Linked DNA regions of Homo sapiens: all the other regions are linked to region 1. The links come from fine-mapping of genetic effects on gene expression. A gene starts in region 1. Each other region holds a variant in brackets. All regions are shown on one strand. Distances are from middle to middle. Region 1 holds the start of CPS1 (carbamoyl-phosphate synthase 1). Region 2 overlaps LANCL1 (LanC like glutathione S-transferase 1). Region 3 overlaps CPS1 (carbamoyl-phosphate synthase 1). Region 4 holds the start of LANCL1 (LanC like glutathione S-transferase 1).

Region 1 (5,223 bases):
TTTCACAGTAATCCATCCACATAATTAGACCATTTTGTCGTGGTTGTGATTGTGGTGGTGGTTGTATGGAGCACTTATTGTGATCTTGGAGAATTGGATTCTAATTTCAATCATATCTGTGCCATTTTAAGTAAGTACTCAATTTCGCGGTTTCTGGGGTCTGATGAAGATGCACCTATCCTTACCTACATACCTACCTTCTCACAGAGTGAGAAGAAGATATTCCAAGTCACCCAACTTTGAAGTATTAGATGGCACATATAATCATAGGGGATAACTTTCATTACTATTGATTTTCTCTGAACTGATACATGAGTACCTTGAGGTATTACTAACAATAAATTCTCATAGTTTACATCTAGTTACAATGTCTTTGATGTTAGTTTAGAATATTCTCCTTTCCCATTCTTTTGCTATAATTAAGCTAAATTCAAGAAAATATATATAACTAGACATAATGCCACTAACCTTTAGTGACTGCTCCCAGTGCCCTTTATGGCCATTATGTAACTACATCCTAATGATTTTAACTATCTTTAAAACATGATGTCCATTTAAAAAGAGTAAAATTGGATACATTGGAATATGTAACAACATAAAAGACATTTTCCTTTCTGGTTTTCTTAATTTAAAATGGTAATTTCCTATACTCTTGTTAGAATCTTCTCAATGTTAAAGGCTGAAGTTGTTAACACACCACTAAGGCTACTATATGTATTTCCTCTTTTCTCCTGGGATCTTGAGCTAGTTTCTCTCTCTTTCTCTCTCTCTCTCCCTCCCATCCCTCACACTTCTCCCCTTCCCCTCCCCCTGTCTCCATCTCTCTTCCTTTTCTTTTACTCCCATTCCTTTCCCATCCCTATCCCTGGCAGCCACAGGAATCTATGAATATTCCTTGGCCTTGCAGGTGTCAGGACCAAAACCCCACTGAATCCTGACTTGAGCAACTGAAACAATAGAAGCTTAGTCAACTCAATGAGCATGCAAAGTATAAGCAGAACACTCCAAACTGTGAGTTCCCATTTTCACATCAACAGACAGAGGTTTTCTTTTGTTTTTTCTATTTCAAATTTTACAGCTTTTGCTGCTAAAGAAGCAATATATCTAAAGCTAATATAATTACTTAAACTTATAGTCACTAAAGATTATTTTCATTGGCAAAGTTCCTATGGAGTAACTTCAGGCTTCTCTGATAATGAACGTCTTCATAAAGTTGCAGGAAGGAGCAGAGGTTCCTACAGGAATTTCATAATTCAATGCTGGGGGGCAGGAAGAAGGGCAATTAATGTTTCTTTCCTGGGCTTGCCCTCTCAATTATAGATACCTGTGGAGGGACAGAATTATCAGCTGCTATCTGCCTCTATGTATTACTCTACAAAATGAAAATAATAAGTTTAGCCTGCCCAAAAAAACAGCCAGAAGGAAAAGGAAAAAGCTAAAGCAGTGTCTACATGATGACCTGCAAATCTCAAAAACACATATTTTCTAATTATGTTTTTAAAATGTTTAAATGATATTTCAAAAGAGAACTTTTCAGTAAGCCCTATTTATAGAACAGACCTTAACACACTGTGTACCATAATGTGGCTCACACACATATAAGCAGCTCCATTTTTTAAATCCAAACTGTAAGCAATAGTATCTAGTCACAGAAAGCTATCTATGAAAGAAAAGATGTTTCTTTTTCAAGCAGTGTACTTACATTTTACATGTTCACAAGAATTGTCATCATTCTTTATGTTGGGTAAAAATTACTGTCATGTTACTCAGATAAGATAAAAATTAGCATTTGCTAAGTCAGTAGGTTCCACAGTAAAGGAAACATTAATACATTAGTACTTCAGAGCTACATTCAAAACTGTATTTGCCTTGTAAGGGACACCTTTGCTTCACTGCTAAACTATACCCCATAGTATTTTATCAGAAACAATCAATATGGGTATTACCTTGACAGAAAGGAGCCTGATGCCAGGTCTTGAAAATTTCCATTTTTGGTGTGCAGTCACATTGGTAAAGCCAAAACCAGTCTTCAGTGTCCTCACCACTTTGAAAGCTGTCAAAATCCTCGTCATTTTGATGATTTGTGGCTAAAATTAAATGAAATTACATAAATTTTATGAGATTGTGTGATAAGACTTTTTAGTTAATGTAAAAGAAATCTGGGAGGGGTGCAGTCAGTGTTTAAGGCTGACTGCACAGCGATCTTTGAATTTCCATTCATTCTGCCATTAAATGTCTTCAGCCACAGCTCCTCCTTCTCTTAACCCCTCCTCCTGAGGTAATGTCCAGAGATGTTCCATGGGCATGTAACACAAATTGCAACACATCAAATACTACCTTCTCCTGCTAAAATAATGCTGGGGTTGTAGAAAACCAGCCATCCATCAAAGGAATTGTTTATGCAGCTGAATGGAATGACCTAGACATCATGGACAACCTTATCCTAAAGAGTAGCAACTTTCCAACATGCTAAGGATCACAGGCTTTTGCTTATGTCACATGTGATACCTAATATGCCTCATAAGAGATTTTGGATTCCCAAAGAAAGCTGAACGCTTGCCATTTTCTGTTGGGGTAAAAAGACAATGTTCTTTTTACAAAAAGTAAAAATCAGAGCATCCTACAAATAGCATTTTTACTATTTGTAAAAAGAACGTTAGAATAAACTTTTCTCCACAAATATACAATAAACCTATCTATATTATGTTTTGGGTTAATAGAGTAGTATACTACATTCTTACTATAGCATTGTTCTGTGTTTCAAAGTTAAAGCAATCAGTAATATCAAGTAAAACACAACTAAAGCAAAGTGGACTATTATATCCCTCTTAAGCCTCTTAGATTTGTAAAAACTTCATGAAACAATGACAAACACTGATTTTAATATAAGCACTATTCCTAAGTCAAGTTTTTTTAGTTATTAAAATGTTATATATAAAATTTTCCAAACTTCAGCATTCATATTTCAACATGAATAAAAAGTGATTCACTTAACCCTTCAGTCCCATGTTTAACCAGGCTCTCAAGGGGCCTCACTGGCTGGCAGATGCTCTTGCTTAAGTCACATGACTATGTAGAACAGGAAGTACTGCAGCAGTGTTCTTTGATACCCTTGCAAAGAAGGCCAAGGAATAAAGGCAATAGACTCATACCTAGGTCTTCTCATAACAGAAAAGATGACAGAAAATGACATAAAGATTGTAAGCTTCAATAACATAGAATCAGTGCTAGAGTTGGGGTAAGGATTTTTTTAAAGAGGAACAAAGTTTAATTTAAGTCCTCACGCTTACTTAATATATTCAAGTACAAACAGTATTTGATTTCAAAGTGCTTCATGGCTCCTGGTGATAGAAAGCTAAACAAAATAGGCTCATACTAGTTTATACAAATAATTAATAAAATAACTGGTGCCATGAAAGTTGCCCAAATGCAATGGGAAAATAAATAAAATGGGGAAAATAAGAAAGAAAGATCAAGTTCCTTGTGCATTTTCAGTAAAGTTTAAGCATAGAATTATGTTGAGCTGTGTTATACTGAAGGATGCAAATTCACCAAGTAGATAAAGAGGGGAAAAAACCCAGAAGGGATGCCGTGGCATGAGCAATAGCCTAGAGGCATGAAGTCATGTGGTATATTTTTTAAAAGCCTAGATGCAGGGTATAGAATGGGAAAATGAAAAGGTACCATATCATGGGAGACTTAGTATGCCTTAAAATGTTCAGCCTTCATCCATAAATAGTATTCATAATAGTCATGGAAGTATTTTGAACAAGAAATAAAGGCGAAATTTGTGTTGAAGATCATTGAAAAATGAATTGGAGGAGAATGAAAATAGCAAAAGGAAAACTCCCAACCTAGAGAACTGAGGACTGAGAAGCAGTACTTACTGGCTTAGTCCAATACTAGTTTACGCCTTGATCTCACCTCTTGTCTTTTTATGTGTGTGTGTGTGTGTGTGTGTGTGTGTGTAGTGAGGGTTGTCTTTCCTTAATTAAGAAAACGATATAAACTCAATCCTCATTATGGAAACTTTTCTTTTTAAGTTTTTTTTTCTTTTATTATTATACTTTAAGTTTTAGGGTACATGTGCACATTGTGCAGGTTAGTTACATATGTATACATGTGCCATGCTGGTGTGCTGCACCCACTAATGGAAACTTTTTAGGATGCAAAATAAATTTAAATCAGTCATAGTCCCATTACCCTAAGGTACCCATGCAATGAATACTATAATATATTTCCTCCCTTCATCACTTATGTTTTAATCAAATATGACAGTGGAAGTACTGAGGAGTCCAGAGCTTGACCAAGGAAAAGACTTCATCACCATTTATAGCAGTTGACTACAAAGCATGATGAATTAAACATGTTTTTCCATAGAAATGTCAACAATCAACAATTCTAGGATAGAATTCTCCTACTCTAAAGTCTAGAGAGAAATGTGGGCATGAGAGTTTTAATGGGCTTTCATTTTTATCAGTAAAGGGTCCCAGATGCAGACTTGCAAACTACGGTGTGTGTGTGTATATATATACATACATATATATATGTGTGTGTATATATATACATACATATATATATGTGTGTGTATATATATACATACATATATATATGTGTGTGTGTATATATACATACATATGTATATGTGTGTGTATATATACATATATATATGTATGTATATATACATACATATATATATGTGTATATACATACATATACATATGTATGTATATATGTATATATATTTTATGGTCCATGTCTTTAGTCATCAGAATGAAGGAGGAGAAGGCAGAAATTTTGGAAAATTTGATTAAATATTCTGAATTAGAGACTTGGAAAATCCATCAATTATAATTCCACAATGGAGGTTGGAACAGCCAATAAATAAAATAGTGGCTAGTTTCATACTTGAGTGTTCAGGCTAGACTGAAATCTATAACCAAACTGGAAAAAAATATATTACACATTAGTGAGGGAGTTTACATTAGGATAGATCAAAGGAGTTGAGGCTATAAGAGTTGGTTGGTAGGGAATGTTAAAGTCAGACATGAAAAAATTTAGTGGAAATGTTACACTTTTAGGACAGATTATTTTTCAAAACATTTTAAAAAATAAGCATTTTTTTCTTCTCTGACCACATGTACACAGTCCTCCTTCATATAAGCTGTCTGCACGCAGCTGAGCAGAGTGACAGGCATGAATGCAGGCACACACATCAGGCTG
Region 2 (5,223 bases), 90 kb after region 1:
TTTTCAGGCTGCTGGAGGGAAGAAGAGGCAAAGAAGAATGCATTAATGCATGCTCTCCCTTTAAAAAGCCTTCCTGGAAGTCCCACTCAACATTTCAGTTGTGCTTACTTTGCATTGGCCAGAACATAGTCACGTAGTCACTCTTGTTAGCAAGGAAGGGTAGTAAATGCAGTCTTTTAGCTTGGGTTCTGTTAATAGAGGAAGAGGAGAGTGAACTTTGGGATAAGACCTAGTAGTCTTTGCTGTAACTTCTATATAACAAGAAAAATGATTTTTTTCTTGACTTCTATGTTTTGCACAAGGCATTTGGACAGTGAGCCTCAATTTTTATGTCTGCTAAAGGATCTCTTCTGTTCACTTTTTGGGGGATTTTTGGGGGGATAAATTTACCAGTGTCTATAAAATATTTTGAAATTTTCCAAGCAATATTTTATCTGTTCTTTGTTTCCAGGGAGATTGATTTGGATTTTGATTCACAACACCTTAAAGTTTTGTGTTTTTTTTTTTTCATTCAGTAAGTCTTTGCGTAAAGCCTGCCACAGAAAGTAAGTATTATAGGAATGTCGAATCATAATTTTCCTAGAGCTAAGTGTAACTTAAATCTAGAAGGGACTAGCGATTGATTCTAAACTTAATACTGTAAAACATTACTATTTTTGTAGCTTTATTAAACAGTTACTTGCCATTCTTTTCTGCTTTCTCCCAAACCCTTATTTTCTATTGCAAAATTATAAAGTTTCCAATTTGTACCATGCATCAATTCATACTAAACCCCATAATTGTATGTCTTTGTTTCTACTTCATGACTCTAAAGAAAGCTACAAAACTGGGCTGCCCAACTTCTTAATACCTCATTCATGGTGTGTCTAGATTTGTCTTAGTTGCTCAGTTGATCTTGAAAATGAAAGGGTTCTAGTGAAGAGATGACACATTCATGTGTTTAATGTTAGATGTGTAAAGTTGACCCTTAACAATGTGCAGTTTAAGGGCACATGCCCATTGACACTCTCAAAAGTTTATGTATAACTTTTGTCTCCCCCAAAACTTAACTACTAATAGCTTGCTGTTGAGGAAGCCTTCCTGATAACATAAATAGTTGATTAACACATATTTTGTGTGTTACATTTAATCTGTTCTGTATTTTTACAATAAGGTAGAAAAAAGAAAATGTTAAGAAAATCATAAGGAAGGGAAAATACATTTACTGTTCATTGAGTGGAAGTGGATCATTATAAAGGTCTTCATCCTCGTTTTCACATTAAGTAGGCTGAGGAAGAGGAGGAAAATAAAGAATTGGTCTTGCTCTCATGGGTGGCAGAGGCAGAAGAAGTGAAGGGAGGTGGAAGGGAAGGCAGGAAAGGCAGGAACACTCAGTAACTTTGCAAAAATACATCGTAATTTCTGTCGGACGTTTTTGCTTTTTCATTTCTCTAAAAATATCTGTACGTTGGCAATTCTTCCACCATTTGCTTTAGTGTCAGTGCCCATACCATATACGAATCCGTGTCAGAAATGAAGTAAAAAGCAGTATTGAATAATCAAAACCCTTTTGCCAGACTGTCTAACATCAGTTCATTTTCTGGTGCTGCTTCTTCTATATCTTCCTCATCCTCTAGCACTGGTTCATAAGAACTCATCTTCATCAAGTTGCTTTCTGTTAATTCCTCTGGTGTGGCGTCTATTAGCTCTTGAATTTCTCCAAGATTCATATCTTGAAATCCTTCATCCCCATCCCCCACCTTTTTTTTTGCCATATCCACATCTCTCTCATGATCTCCTTGATTGGTGCCTGTGAAGTCATGCACACTATCTGAACCCAGTTTTCTCCAGCAGGAATTTATTGTTTCAGCCTTGATGGTTTTTGTGGCTTTACTGTATCAACGATGGCATCTCAGTGGTGTAATTCTTCTAGACTTTCATGATGTTCTCTCTATCTGGTTTGTTCCGTGAAAGGGTCACATATGCAAAGTGACCCCCAAATGCTGAAGTAGCTGAAAAATCAAAGGAGGAGGCAGAAAATCCAATTTGTCAGTAAAGGCTGTTTTATTGGAGAACTTAGAGACACAAGCATGGTCTTGGTCAGCCACAAGGCAGGAAGATCTCAACACTGCTACTCCAGAGACCCAGGGCTTACATACCATAGGGAAAGGCAACCCTCAAAAACAGGCAAGACGGCTATGTGTATCACAGCCTATAATTTGTGCATTAGCACCAAGGTTCCTTTGTTCTTATACTAGGGGCAGTAAATAAAGTAAAAACCAGGAGGCATTCACGGGGCCGGGGCTAATCAGAAGTCTGTGTAGAGGATTAGCCTACAAGATGGAGTCACTTTTATCTCCACAGTGTACTCCATAGCACTGACAATCCGTTCCGTAAAGTACTATTTATAATGAGCCTGAGAGGTCCTTATGACCCCCTGATGTAGAGGCTGAATTAGAGACCTGTTTGGGGCAAGTAGACCACTTTGATGTCTTCAGTGTTGAACTCTTGGGTTCTGGGTAGCTAGGGGCATTGTGCACTATTGAAAAAACTTTAAAAG[G/C]CAGTCCCTACTGGCAAGATATTTCCCTACATCAAGGAGAAAGCATTGGTGGAACCAAACGATTAAAAAAGGTTCTTGTTGTCCAAGCTTTCCTGTACAACCAAAAGATTGGCAGCTGGTGCTCATCTTTTCTCTTCAAGACCAAGGGGTTGGCAGCTTTATAAATAAGGGTAGTCCTGATCATAAACCCTACAGCATTTGCATTAAACAGTAGAGTTAGTCTGTTCCTTCTTGCCTTAAATCCTGGTGGTCATTTCTCTTCCTTACTAATGCATGTCCTTTGTGGCTTTTCCCCCCCCAGAATAGGGTTCAAAACCTTTTCAGGCAGATAGCCTTTCTCCTCGATTTTTCTTCATCGTACCTGGGAACTTGTCTGCTGCCTCTTGGTTGGCAAAAGCTGCTGCTTCTGTTATCTTGACATTTTTTTAAGCCAAACTTCTTCCTATAATTATCAAACCAACCCTTGCTGGCATTAAATCATACAGCTTTAGATCGTTTTGCTTCTAGTTGCCGTATATTGACTTCACGTTTTCTTGAATCATTTTAGAGTCCTGCACCAACATAAAGGCTACATTTTCAATATGTACTGCAGTTTCACTAAAAATGCAAGGTTTTTGTGCCTGCTGCTGTAACTGCAGTGATGGCTTCATGAATTTCCTTTTCATTCTTTACAGTGGTCCTTATGCTGGATTCATTTATCTTAAAATGGCAGGCAACTGCAGCTGCAGACCTCAATCTATGGTTACATTATATCAAGCAGTTCAGGTGTTTCGTGTAATGTCACGACTTTTTTCTGCTTCGTGGAAGCACTTTCAGCATCACTAGTGGCACTTTGTATGTGTCCCATGGTGTTATTCAAGGTTTACAATATTGCACTAAAAACAATTAAAAATATGCAAGAATCAGAAGAGATTACTCTTTCCTGTGATATGTAATTTACTGGAGAGACAGAGATAATGATCTCAAGCAGAGATAATTCACATCACATGTTATTTTAAGTGGAGCAACACTTGATTTCACATCAGCAACAGGAGGTGGCTAAGAAGTTATTGCTGTACTACAGTATGCACTGGAGTTAATTTACGAAGTTATTTTTCATCTTTACATTTTTTGACATCTCTCTTGACTGCAGGTGGCACTATGTACAGTCTGTACGCATAAGTTTTTTTTTTTTTTTTTTTGAGACGGAGTCTCGCCCTGTCACCCAGGCCGAACTGCGGACTGCAGTGGCGCAATCTCGGCTCACTGCAAGCTCCGCTTCCCGGGTTCACGCCATTCTCCTGCCTCAGCCTCCCGAGTAGCTGGGACTACAGGCGCCCGCCACCGCACCCGGCTAATTTTTTGTATTTTTAGTAGAGACGGGGTTTCACCTTGTTAGCCAGAATGGTCTCGATCTCCTGACCTCATGATCCACCCGCCTCAGCCTCCCAAAGTGCTGGGATTACAGGCGTGAGCCACCGCGCCCGGCCTGTACGCATAAGTTTTAATAAATTTTAGCTTTTTATAATAGATTTGTGTATATTTTATCCTAGTGATAAAATAGACTAGTAACTATATATATTTTGTGCATTCATGACACACCTTTTTCTTAATTTTTTCGATATTTCTGGTCTACACAGTTCATCTGCAAGTTTTTTCAAATTGTCGACAGAAGCCCAAAAAAGTTTCCACTATATATATATATTTTTAAATCTGTGTACGAGTAGACCCATGCAGTTCAGACCCATGTTGTTTAAAAGCCCACTGCACTTGGAACTGAAAAACTGACTCCTTTTTTTCCCCATCTATCTTTTCAACAAAAATTAAAACTAATAGAAGGTACTTATTAGAATTCTGCTAAAGTACTTCTGAGTGTTAAACATGCTTAGTAAAATGATTATTACAATTAGTTAGGACTTTACAATTTTATTTTGTTGTTTCATTCCCCAGTAGTATGTAGATGGTCTGATAATTAACGCTAGTTCAGATAAGATTAGGATTTAGAATAGGATTATTCCAAATAATTCGTATATACACAATGCTTTGTTGGTAAGGGTGATATGTACAGGTTTAAATAGAAATGTAACAGAAGCAAATAATTGCTTAAGAAAGTACTTTACACTTACTTTACAAACTGTTTTACAACTGAAATTATCTTGGCTTTTATTTTAAAATTGAAGCAGAGGGTATGAAATAGTGAAGAGATTGGTTAACATGAACTTTTAATAGAACTCAAACGTCATTTCCACTGCAGCCTACATATTTACACCTGTGAGTTGTCATAGTGCAATTTTACAAGCTGTATCCCTGACTTTTACCTTTTTTATTCACAGCAGAGGTAAAAATGCCCTGACCGTGGGAAAGAAAGGAGGGAAGAATTTTAAAAACCTGTAGCTGTCCCATATTGTCTAAAGAGGCAGTTATTACCATAAATCCCTCTGGTCTCTCTCATGCTCATTCAGGAATGAGATGTTATGATTAATCAATTTTTCAGACAGTAAATTAGACTTAACAAATTACTTCTATAATGTTCAAAAAAAGAATAATAAAATAGATTGACTGAATGTTGGTTCCCAAGGGAATAAAGATCATCAGTATGCAGTTTTATGATCATTTGACTGTTGGAGGACAGGAGTAAGATTAAAACACTCTTCGTGGTGATAAAATGTTACTGCAGTTAACATCTGAATGACAAGACAGGGTGC
Region 3 (5,223 bases), 50 kb before region 1:
TCAAGATCCCAGCGGGGAATCTTGGTGACCATGTAATCCAGGCTAGGTTCAAAACAGGCTGATGTCTTCCCGGATACGACGTTCTTAATTTCTGGAAGTGGGATTCCTAGGGCAATCTTTGCAGCAATGAATGCCAATGGGTAGCTATAAAAAGAAGACAAATTTATTTTTTTTTCTTCGAGCAATTATTGAAAACAGACCAAAACATAAATTGGTCTTTCTTAAAATTTCTGGTATTATTCTACTTCAGGGTATAAGACACTTGATTCTCTGTTCTGCATCAATATTTAGTAGCCACTTGCGGAATAATAGGAGTCATGATACAAAGTATAGAGGCACAGGTCACAGGAGAATTTACTCTCTGTGCACTACATGCATTGCTACAACGCTCAACCTTCACCTCTTCAACCCAAAATCGATAGCTTTATTGATAAATAAAGTTTAACCTTTATTTGTATTTAACCTCCACTAAGATGAGAATCTGCAAAATATTTTTTGAGAAAATATATACATATCTGTACATATACATATCTGTACCTAAGAATACAGTGGAGTTAGCTAGTACAAGAGAGTACATAATGGTCAGAAAATGTAGGCATTTCAAGTTTGGGTCCTTGCTCTGTCTCCAAATTATCTTTGAACTTTGGGCTCCTTACAAAACTAACACTTTGAGAACTTGACTATCTTCATCCAGAATGTCAGTTTGGGTTATTCTGTTTGAGAAAATAATTCATAGAACTATAGAATTAAAAATGAGTTCTTTAGTACAACTTCCACCTAACAAATGAGGAAACTGATAAAGACAATGAGTGATGTGCTCAAAATCACACGGTCAACAGAAGAACCAAGTGAGAATGCAGAATTGTGACTCCTGTACAGGGCAACATGCCTTTCACCACTCCACGCAGTGCTGTGGAACTACGTAAAAAAAATATAAAGAAGTAAATATTGTGTTCATTTAAATGCCATAATTTAAGTGTAAGGTGCTAAATATATTATTAGAAACCAAAGGTTTTGATTACCTTTCCCTCCAATCATGCCTGCTAGTGGCTGTTACATAGACAGCAGATGTATTTGTTTGGTTGTAACAGTTACTTGTGAAAAAATTCCGCACTGTTCAGTCTTGTGGAGTTTTGATAAAATAAAAGTAATGTGTATTGCATGCTTGAGTCAAGTGAGCTATATTTTCTGTCAACTATTTGCTATAGGGCTATACACCTGAAGAAAACAGCTGAAGACTAAAATTAAGGATTAATCTGCACTTTTAACAACATCTGCAAAGTGCAATTAGGAAGCAGATTTTTCACAGCCTGCTTTAGCCACCTAGATTTTGATTCGTTTAGATTAGCCTGCAAACAAAGCCAGCTAGCAATATAATTTACCTCAATCTGGCAACAAGCTCATTAATAATCATGTCCTCAGGGTGCTATAAATGATTTGGAGCTAACATACAGAAAAAGGGAACATAGTTTGTAAATGCAGTACAGTCTTCCACTATCTGTCAATTTTTCATTTCTATCTGAAAAGAATCTGCAAACCCATGGTCAATTATTCTGGTCTTACCCAGTGGCTTTTGAGGCCAGAGCAGAGCTTCGGGACAGTCTGGCATTCACTTCAATGATGCAGTATTCCATTGAGGTAGGATGAAGGGCAAACTGAATGTTGCATTCACCCACAATGCCCAAGTGGCGAACAACATTGATTGAAGTACGTCTCAACATCTGAAACTCGGCATTGGAGAGTGTCTGGGCAGGAGCCACAACAACTGAGTCACCTATATATCCAAGAAGCACTCATTACTTGGTGGCATATTGAAATAACCAACTTCAGCGACTTAACCATCTACTTGCACGATGCAAGACATAGAACAGTCTGAGGGTTTGTTGGGATATATATGTGATATCAGGTATTCCCCCAATTCCTGTTTTGCCCATATTACTCTGATACAGTACTTTTAGAAACCTCTCTAACCTTTCCCAAGTTCATCTATCTAGTAAGTAGCTATCAAGGCTTCAATCGTCTACTTACTAGATTGACTTCAACTTCCCTGCTCTTCATCTCAAATTATTTCTGAAGTTCTTCCTTTCATTGAATATTATCACTCAGACTGGCTCATCAGCTGGCTTTCTGTATCTCATCCCTTTCCATCTTCACTTC[C/T]CTCATCATAGCCCCTTATATCTGCAATCTTAGTCTCCATCCCTTCTGCCTTCAAACACGCTCAGATCTTCACTGCCTCCGGAAGTCTTCTCCCAACATTGCCAGACAACCATACAAAGCTTCTCTCTCATTCTTTACATGAATGAGCTTCTTGAAAGTTTGCCAATTCTGCTTACCACTTGATACCATGTAATTCCTTTTAATAGAGCTCACAGAACTGACTTTGCAATGAAATTGTTCTCTTGGACATCCAAAAGAGCCAAATTAAATAATCAGTCTTGGTCTTGCATAGCATTTGATACTGCCAAAAACAAAGCTCTTTTATAAAATAGTTCTTGCATTGGCTTAGTTGGTACAGTACTACCTGATTTTCCTCTTAACTCTTTATTCTCCCCTTCTATCTTCAACAGTAATACTTCCTCTTTCCCCTGCCCTATAAATCTAAATGTTTCCCAGAGTTCAAAGTTCAACCCTATTCTCTCCTCTTTCTATACCTATGTCCTTGAATACTTTGTCTATGCCTACAACTTCAATTTCCCCTTTTATGCCAACAGTTTCCAGTGTCTTTGTATCAACTTATTTATTTCTATTTTATTTCTTAAATTCCATCTCCACATTCTCAACTCCCTTTTTTGACAGCTCTGCTCACACCCCAAATTTAGCACTTTTAAATCCTAAGTTATCATCTTTGCCCTCTTATCTAACTAGTGTACTTTTCTGAAAAACTTATTTCTATTATTGTGCCTATTTTCTCATTTACTGGGTGATTACCAGCTCAGTCTGCTTTAAACTGTCTCAACCTCCCTTCTTATTTCTCAACACTAAGTTTTATGGATCTTATTTCTACCATATTGCTTACCTTTGGCTCTTCCTCAATTAACTCAGTGTAATATCCGCCTTACTTCACAGGGTTTGTGTGAAGATCAAATTAAATGTGAGAACATTTTCAATACTGTAAAATACTATGCTTGTCCAAAATGTTATCACTAGTCTGTCAACTAGAAATAGTAATTTAAAGGCAACAACTTTATAAAGACTGCCTTGGCCATCAAAGACATGAACTGAAAGCATTACTATAGTTCTTGAAGATACTTTGCCTACCTGTGTGAACACCCATGGCATCAACATTTTCCATGTTACAGACAGTGACACAATTGTCATCAGCATCTCGAACCACTTCATATTCTATTTCTTTCCAACCTGTCACTGACTTCTCCACCAGAATTTGGTTGGTCATAGCAAAGGCCTAGAAATTGGTGACAAAAGATATCAAAGAGTAAGAAAAAGCACTGGCTTCAACAAGGATATTTGGCAAAATACCCTGGCATAAATCCTGGTCAGCACTGAACTCTCAAACCCCGTCTCCATTCTCCCCTGCACAGAAGGCACAATGTGTCAGAAAATCAGTGAGGTACTAGGAATAGCATCCTGCAGTGAATATGCTTGATTTACATTATTGAGGCTTGCCATTCAAAGTGCTGATATGACAGTAAATCAAACTAATTTAGGAAAAAGAGAAAATAATTGAGCAATCAGGCAGAGGGAAATGAAATTATTTCAGCAGCTAGGCTTCTGTGAAACCAGAAAATGTGATAAGTGTGAATAAATATGGAAAAATAAGTCTAAAGACTCTGGCTCTCTCTAAAATAGCTGAGGGTGCTTTGTACAGTGACACACACAATAAAAGTTAGTTGATGTTGATGAGGAGGAGAAAGGAGATGATGATGGTTGTAAACGGTTAGCCAAGATGGCATATAAAACTTGAGAATTAGAAGAATCATATGGGACTATTATTATGGTTAATCACTGCCTAAATGCTTAAATACTCTGAGTCATATATCATGTATGCCTGATTAGACAGATATGAATTAGCATAATTATAATTTCATATTTACGGCACACCCACAATGGGTAGAATACTGAACCCAAAATAGGAAAGTGGTAATCTTTGACCTTAGGACATGCAGTGGCTGATAATCCAAGGGAGAAATGTCTTATTGTCTTATAATATATTTGATTTGGATTGACAGTGAAAGGGAAAGCAGTTTGAATTTTTTCAAATTATTAATAGGCATTAAAATAATAATTTAATGTAAGTTTTTCTGTAATGTGCCTTAATAGGATTTTTTTAAACTTCAGTCATCACTACAGGCTCCAGCACGTGCAAATGAAAATGTGACACATTTGTCCCCACAGCTGCCCACGATGAGGTTCTCAAAGTGGTTAGAAAATTCAGTAGCCAATGTTAACAATTTAATAATGATTAATTCATCATTCCGGTTGCCTGCTAAAAGAAGAAATCTAGGAAACAAAGGGTATAAATTTGGAAAAGTATTTTGCATTCTAATGAAGTAAAATGGATATTTAGATACAGGGAAAATTTGAAATTATCTTCACCTGTTTCCTCAGCTTATTTTTATTTTTATTTTTTGAAGTCTTCGATTTTATGTAAAAAGTTAATTTAGGGACCTGGATAAGTTAATGCAGCTTTTAATGGTGCTAATTATAACCTCAAGAGAATAGGGGATTGTTTAGGACATAATGATATGACTAATTATTCTCAAGGGAAGAGCGAGGGTTTTTTTCAACAAGAAAAACCATTTAAGGGACTATTGATTATTTGAGTACAATATAAATAATTGAAAGCTATTTCATTCCAAAATTCTCTTTATTATAAACTTTCTTACATGAAAAGTTCAGTCTTCAGATTGGTTTCTTATAGAGTAAAAAAATTAATAGAGAATATGTATACACTGTCACAATTGGCAGTTATGAAGTTGTTAATATTGAAAATATTTGGAGCCTCTAACATGCTAGAGGAAATAAACTTTCTATCTTCAAAAACATGTTTTTGCTCTAAATATGTGATTCATATGTCCAGAATGGTAACAAGAAACATTTATGTGAGGTATGTTTCCCTTTTTTGTAATTTTCACAACTTTAGAAAAACGAAACCCAAGTTGTTTATATGTAAGTCTGCCATTGTAGTTATTTAAATATGCTGAATTGTACTTATCTGTTTTCAAAATTCTATGTCAACAATTCAAGGGTCTCATTTCACTTCAG
Region 4 (5,223 bases), 78 kb after region 1:
AAGGATCAAGGGAATAGGTAGGAAGAAACAGAGAAGGCATGGTTGCTAGGAGGTTAGAGGCAAAAGGAACACCACAGACACTATAGCATGCTGCGCCTTTGCTGGCAGACAGGGGCTATCAGTTACTAAAACTGCCATCATGTATTGGAGGACATTAACTGTCCACCAAAGTCAGTCTTCCCCTTCTTTCATTGTAGCTGAACACATAGCTGTTCAGCAGAGAACTTCATTTCACAGCCTCCTGGGCAGCTAGAGGTGGCCAAGTGACTAAATCCTCACCAGTAGAACACGAGGGAAGTGACAAATCCCACTTCCTGGTCTGTGCACTTCTCTGGGTGTGCCTGACCTTCTCACAAGCTGCAATACCGACACACCTATGACCAGCATGGACTTGATGAGAGCATCACACTCTGAGGGAGGTGGGAACAGAGATGGAAGGAATCTGTGATCCTGAATGGCCACATGGAGCAAATCTAATCTGAACTAAGAAAAATACATTTCTATGTATTTTGGAGATTATGTTTTGAGGCCTCTTTGTAACTAACATAGTTTTCACCCTAATATACATTATAACATTTTGAAATTAAAGTCTGAGAATGGAACTAAAATGCCCTCAGAATATAGTTGTTTTCTCTGTTATCAATCATCCCAGATTTCCAGAAGTATTCAGTTTTAGAGGCAATAATACAATGATTATTTCCTGAAAGTTCACACAAGACAGCTACAGTGATTAAAAGAAGGAACATTACATTTTTTTAAAAAATCATCCTAAATTTATCAAAAGTAGAATGATCCATAAAAAATTATAACTGTCAAATTTGTGTTAGCCACAAATGTGTTCAGCCACCATAGCCACAGGTGAAAGCATAGGTACTATTTGGGGCTAAAATTGTTGCCCCCCAAATTCATACGTTGAAGTCCTAACTCTCACTATCTCAGCATGTGGCTGCTGGAGAAGGGTCTTTAAAGAAAAGTAAGGTTAGCCAAGTCAGGCATATCACTTGAGGTCAGGAGTTCAAGACCAGCCTGGCCAACATGGTGAAACCCCGTCTCTACTGAAAATACAAAAATTAGCTGGGCGTGGTGGTGTGTGCCTGTAATCCCAGCTACTCTGGAGGCTGAGGCAGGAGAATCGCTTGAACCAGGGAGTCAGAGGTTGCAGTGAGCCGAGATCGTGCCACTGCACTCCAGCCTGGCAACAGAGCGAGACTCCGTCTCAAAAAAAAAAAAAAAAAAGAAAGAATGATAAGGTTCAATGAAGTCATAATCCACTATGATGGTGTCGTAAGAAGAGGAAATTAGGACACAGACAACACAGACTGAGGGACAACCATGTGAAGATAGGAGAAGACGGCATCTACAAGCCAACAAGACAGGCCTCAGATGGAATCAGTCCTGCTAACATCTTAATCCCAGACTTCTATCCTTCACAACTGTGGAAAAATACATTTCTGTTGTTTCAGGCCACTTGCTATGGTTCTTTGTGTGGCAGCCTGAGTAGATAAATACAAACAATAAATGTTAAATACTTTTCTTTTGTATCAGAACCAAGGAGGGATTCTCTGGGTTGGTTCTCTGACAAAAAGGAAGGAAGAAAGAGAAGGAAAGCAGGGAGGGAGGGAGGGAAGGGAGGGGGGAAGGGGGGAGGGGGGAGGAGGGAGGGAGGGAGGGAAATATTATTTCCAGCAATTAAAATCTTTGGGTGTTTACAAGTCACATGCTTTGATTATATTTAAATTCTAAATAATTCTACTTCCCTTCCGTTTAGACGCATGCTTCACATCATCTTCAGAAGTAAACTCCAGATAAAGACTTAAATATAAGAGGTAAAAAGCTAATAAAATAAAATGTGGGAAGTCATTGCAGTCTATGAGTAGACAAAGACATTTTGAATATGAAGCTAAATCCTCAAATCACAGTGTCACAATTAGATGGGTTTAACTTCATCGAAATGAAAGATTGTGATTCAATAAAGGATATCCTAGAAAATGTGAACAAACTAAAGAAAGTATCTACAATAACTAAAGTGAAAGGAGATTAATATACAGAATATACCCCACAAACACGGGAAAAAAAGAAACAAAACTCTTTCAAATCAACAGGAAAACAATGCAATCACTAATAGAAAAATAAATAAAGGAACAGGTAAAGCCCAATTGTCTAACAGGTATATGAAGGAAAGTTCAACACCATTAGCCACAGAAAAACTAAAAGATTAAACATCAGTGAGATTCTACATTATTCATTAGAATGGCAAACATTAGAACACTAGATAATACCAAGTGTTGGAGAGGAGATGGAAATGACAGAAACAATTGATATGTTGGAGTGAATACTCTTGGAGTGAACAATAGATACTGTTAGAGGGAATATAAACTAGTCCAGCAGTTTTGGAAAGCAATCTAACAACATTGGGGAAATTAAGTACAGAATCTCATATGATCCAGCAATTGACTGCTGGGTGTATGTCTCAGGGATACTCACACAGATTCATAAAAGCACATGTTCCAAGAATATTATTTGTAGTATGGAAGTTAGAAACAATGTCCATCATTAGGGGAAAGGATTAGTAAAATAAGATAGAGGCATACTATGAAAATATACAATTACCATCCTGCCTTGCTTAACAACAGTAATATTTAATTGCTTAAAGACTGTGAGTGGGATAAATGGATAGCCTTTAATCATTAAAGAAAAAATAATTGATAAAATGTCTCTCGTTTTCCTTTTCTCTCTTGTGAGTTGCTCCTTCAAACACCCATCTTTTAAAACATGAGAGATATCCAGCTTAAGACTCACCATGGGCCTCGGCTAAAT[C/T]TTCATGAATTTGATGAGGTTAAGAAAGCAACTACATTTCCTAAGAAAGCAACTATTTTAAAAGAGCAAACCTGGGTGTGGGGAGGGATTAGGAGTAGAGTTTGGGATGGCAGCCTCAGAAGGACAAACTTAGGCCAAGGAGGGAGGGAGTTGGGGTGGAGACTGAGCTTCTCCAGTTGGAGGTCTGGAGCTAGGACTCTTCATTGAAACCGGAGAGAAGGAAAAGGAGAGAGTGAGGCTGACTTTTTAACTGAACTCCAAAATTCTCTGAGCAATAGAATGGGCCTAATATGTACCAGGTGGGATTTAATTTTAAATGAAAGAAAAATGTTTCAGATAGCAGGGACTGTTAAAACATTGAAATTGAATGTTGTGGATCTCCTGCTGTGTTGGTTTTCAGTATTTTTTAGAGCTTTGTTATCCAGTATTATAGTCCAATTTAGGCTAAGGAACAGAATAAATTTCCTAAGAGCTGTAATTTGTGTTTTCATGTGCTTTCCCCAAAGTATTATCAACTGCTATTTGATATCCTGTCCTTTGGGCATATTTTTGTTGTTGTTGTTGTTAATGATGGTGGTGCTTTTTTGTTTGTTTGTTTTAAGAAATGAAAAGAAAAGATTGGCAAGTCCCTGGAGAGACATTATCCCCCCACCCCCCGCCAAATTTTATCTATTGCGAACAGCAGAAATACCAGCATGTTCAGATCTAAAAGCAGTCTGTTTCTTCTCCAGGTTAAAAAAATATATACTTCTTATGACTCTGGACTTAAATTTGACTTTTTAAAAATAAGAAAAATTAAAGAAGGGTAGGAAATATTGGTCACATCTCCGCGTGATTCTAGGTCCTCACTTCTGCTACCCAGTAATTAAAATACCCTGCGTTATCCTTTAGAAATTACACGCCTGTGTCTTTAACAAACTGTAAGAGAGAAGGGGGCGGGTCTCGGGAACGGCGAAGGCTCTGATTGGCCCTCCTGGCAGGAACTGGGCGGTAAAATAGCCCTTCTGTTACTGTCCGGGGCTGCGGGGTGAGAGGCCAGGGCCGAGAAGGGCTTCAGGACGCGGGAGGCGCACTTGCTTCAAGTCGCGGGCGTGGGAACGGGGTTGCAAAACGGGGCCTCTTTGTCCGGGTGGGTTAAGGGCCCTGGCAGCTTTTTCGCGAAGGCGCCATGTCCTAGCAGTTGGGCCGCAGTGGGCCCGAGGTCCACTCGGACCGCCGAGACGGCTCGATGGCCCTGGAGCTGGAGGAAGGGGGATACCTGGGCGCCGCCGCCGCCCTCGCAACTCGGCCGAGGCCCCTATCTCAACCTAGTTTCTGTTTTTCCCCTGTTCTGCAGGCTTGCTTCCGGCGTCATGGCTCAAAGGGCCTTCCCGAATCCTTATGCTGATTATAACAAATCCCTGGCCGAAGGCTACTTTGATGCTGCCGGGAGGGTGAGTTTAGGATATGTCTGCCTGCATCCCTGCCTCTCCCCACGGTGTTCGGAAAGGTGCTCATTTTTGCCTGAGAGAGTTGAGCATCCCCCTTTAAAAAAATACATGATTCGACGATAAATACGTAAATTATTTAAAAATACATGTTAATATATACAAATTGAGCTCTAACATAATGTTAAATGTGTCATTGTTAACATTATTAATTGAAATAAACTCAATTATTGATAGTATAAATTTTAAAAATTGGCAAATATGTAGTTTACTATGTAATTGGCATTTTTTAATGTATTTTGGTTTGCTTCTTAAAAAGAGGTGAAGAATCCTAACGGTATTCACATGTGCCGTGTTACTCCTTTGTGATTATACACAAGTGCGTTCAGGGTAATGATGAGAGCAAACGGTGGTGTATGGTAAGGACGTCTTTAAACTGTTAGTGCTTAGAGAATTTGGGGACCTAGGAAACCTGAAGTTCTTTGTACCGGTGTCACTCCACAGGGCATATCCACAGCTGGAAAACAAAAAAAAAGAAACTTGTAAATTAAACTGGTTAGCATGTCACAAATCACTGTGCAAAAGAGAACCTGGATGTAAAATACTAGGGGCCTGTGTTTTCTCATGCCTCATTGGGTGAACATAATTGTTAAGAGGGAATACAGATATTTTTAAGAATACCTACTTTTGGCTGGGTGCAGTGGCTCACACCATTAATCCCGACACTTTGGGAAATCAAGGCAGGAGGATTGCTTAAGGCCACGAGTTTGAGACCAGCCTGTGCAACACAGCAGGACCTTATCTCTACTAAAATTTTTTTAAAAATTAGCCAGGTGTGGTGGAAAGCTTGTAGTCCCAGCTACTTGGGAGGCTGAGGCGGGAGAATTGCTGGAGCCTAGGAGATTCGAGGCTGTAGTGAGCTATGATTGCACCACTGCACTCTAGCCTGGGTGACAGAGACCCTGTCTCTAAAAAATAA

The links.
Region 2: its variant is fine-mapped to the expression of CPS1 in tibial nerve (GTEx, PIP above 0.99). The same link has a PIP of 0.9 or more in atrial appendage.
Region 3: its variant is fine-mapped to the expression of CPS1 in fibroblasts (GTEx, PIP 0.97).
Region 4: its variant is fine-mapped to the expression of CPS1 in lung (TOPMed, PIP above 0.99). The same link has a PIP of 0.9 or more in blood mononuclear cells, coronary artery, esophagus mucosa, esophagus muscle, fibroblasts and left ventricle.

What each region holds. Positions count from the first base shown.
Region 1 is chr2:210,553,583-210,558,805 of GRCh38, reverse strand. It overlaps CPS1 (carbamoyl-phosphate synthase 1), which reads right to left and starts at 2,207. Exons shown (of 38, transcript NM_001875.5): 1 at 1,947-2,207. The coding sequence starts at 2,072.
Region 2 is chr2:210,463,470-210,468,692 of GRCh38, reverse strand. All of the region lies in intron 3 of LANCL1 (LanC like glutathione S-transferase 1), which reads left to right. It overlaps LANCL1-AS1 (LANCL1 antisense RNA 1), which reads right to left. Exons shown (of 5, transcript NR_110606.1): 4 at 109-188; 5 at 1-11. Among named protein-coding and RNA genes, the nearest start is that of LANCL1, 11 kb to the left of the region's middle. The variant G/C (reference allele first, on the strand shown) is at 2,540.
Region 3 is chr2:210,603,282-210,608,504 of GRCh38, reverse strand. CPS1 (carbamoyl-phosphate synthase 1) reads right to left here. Exons shown (of 38, transcript NM_001875.5): 17 at 3,259-3,403; 18 at 1,564-1,774; 19 at 1-144. Among named protein-coding and RNA genes, the nearest start is that of CPS1-IT1, 12 kb to the left of the region's middle. The variant C/T (reference allele first, on the strand shown) is at 2,158.
Region 4 is chr2:210,475,343-210,480,565 of GRCh38, reverse strand. LANCL1 (LanC like glutathione S-transferase 1) reads left to right here and starts at 3,807. Exons shown (of 10, transcript NM_006055.3): 1 at 3,807-3,946; 2 at 4,154-4,250. The coding sequence starts at 4,170. It also overlaps a transcript of CPS1 not described here. The variant C/T (reference allele first, on the strand shown) is at 2,818.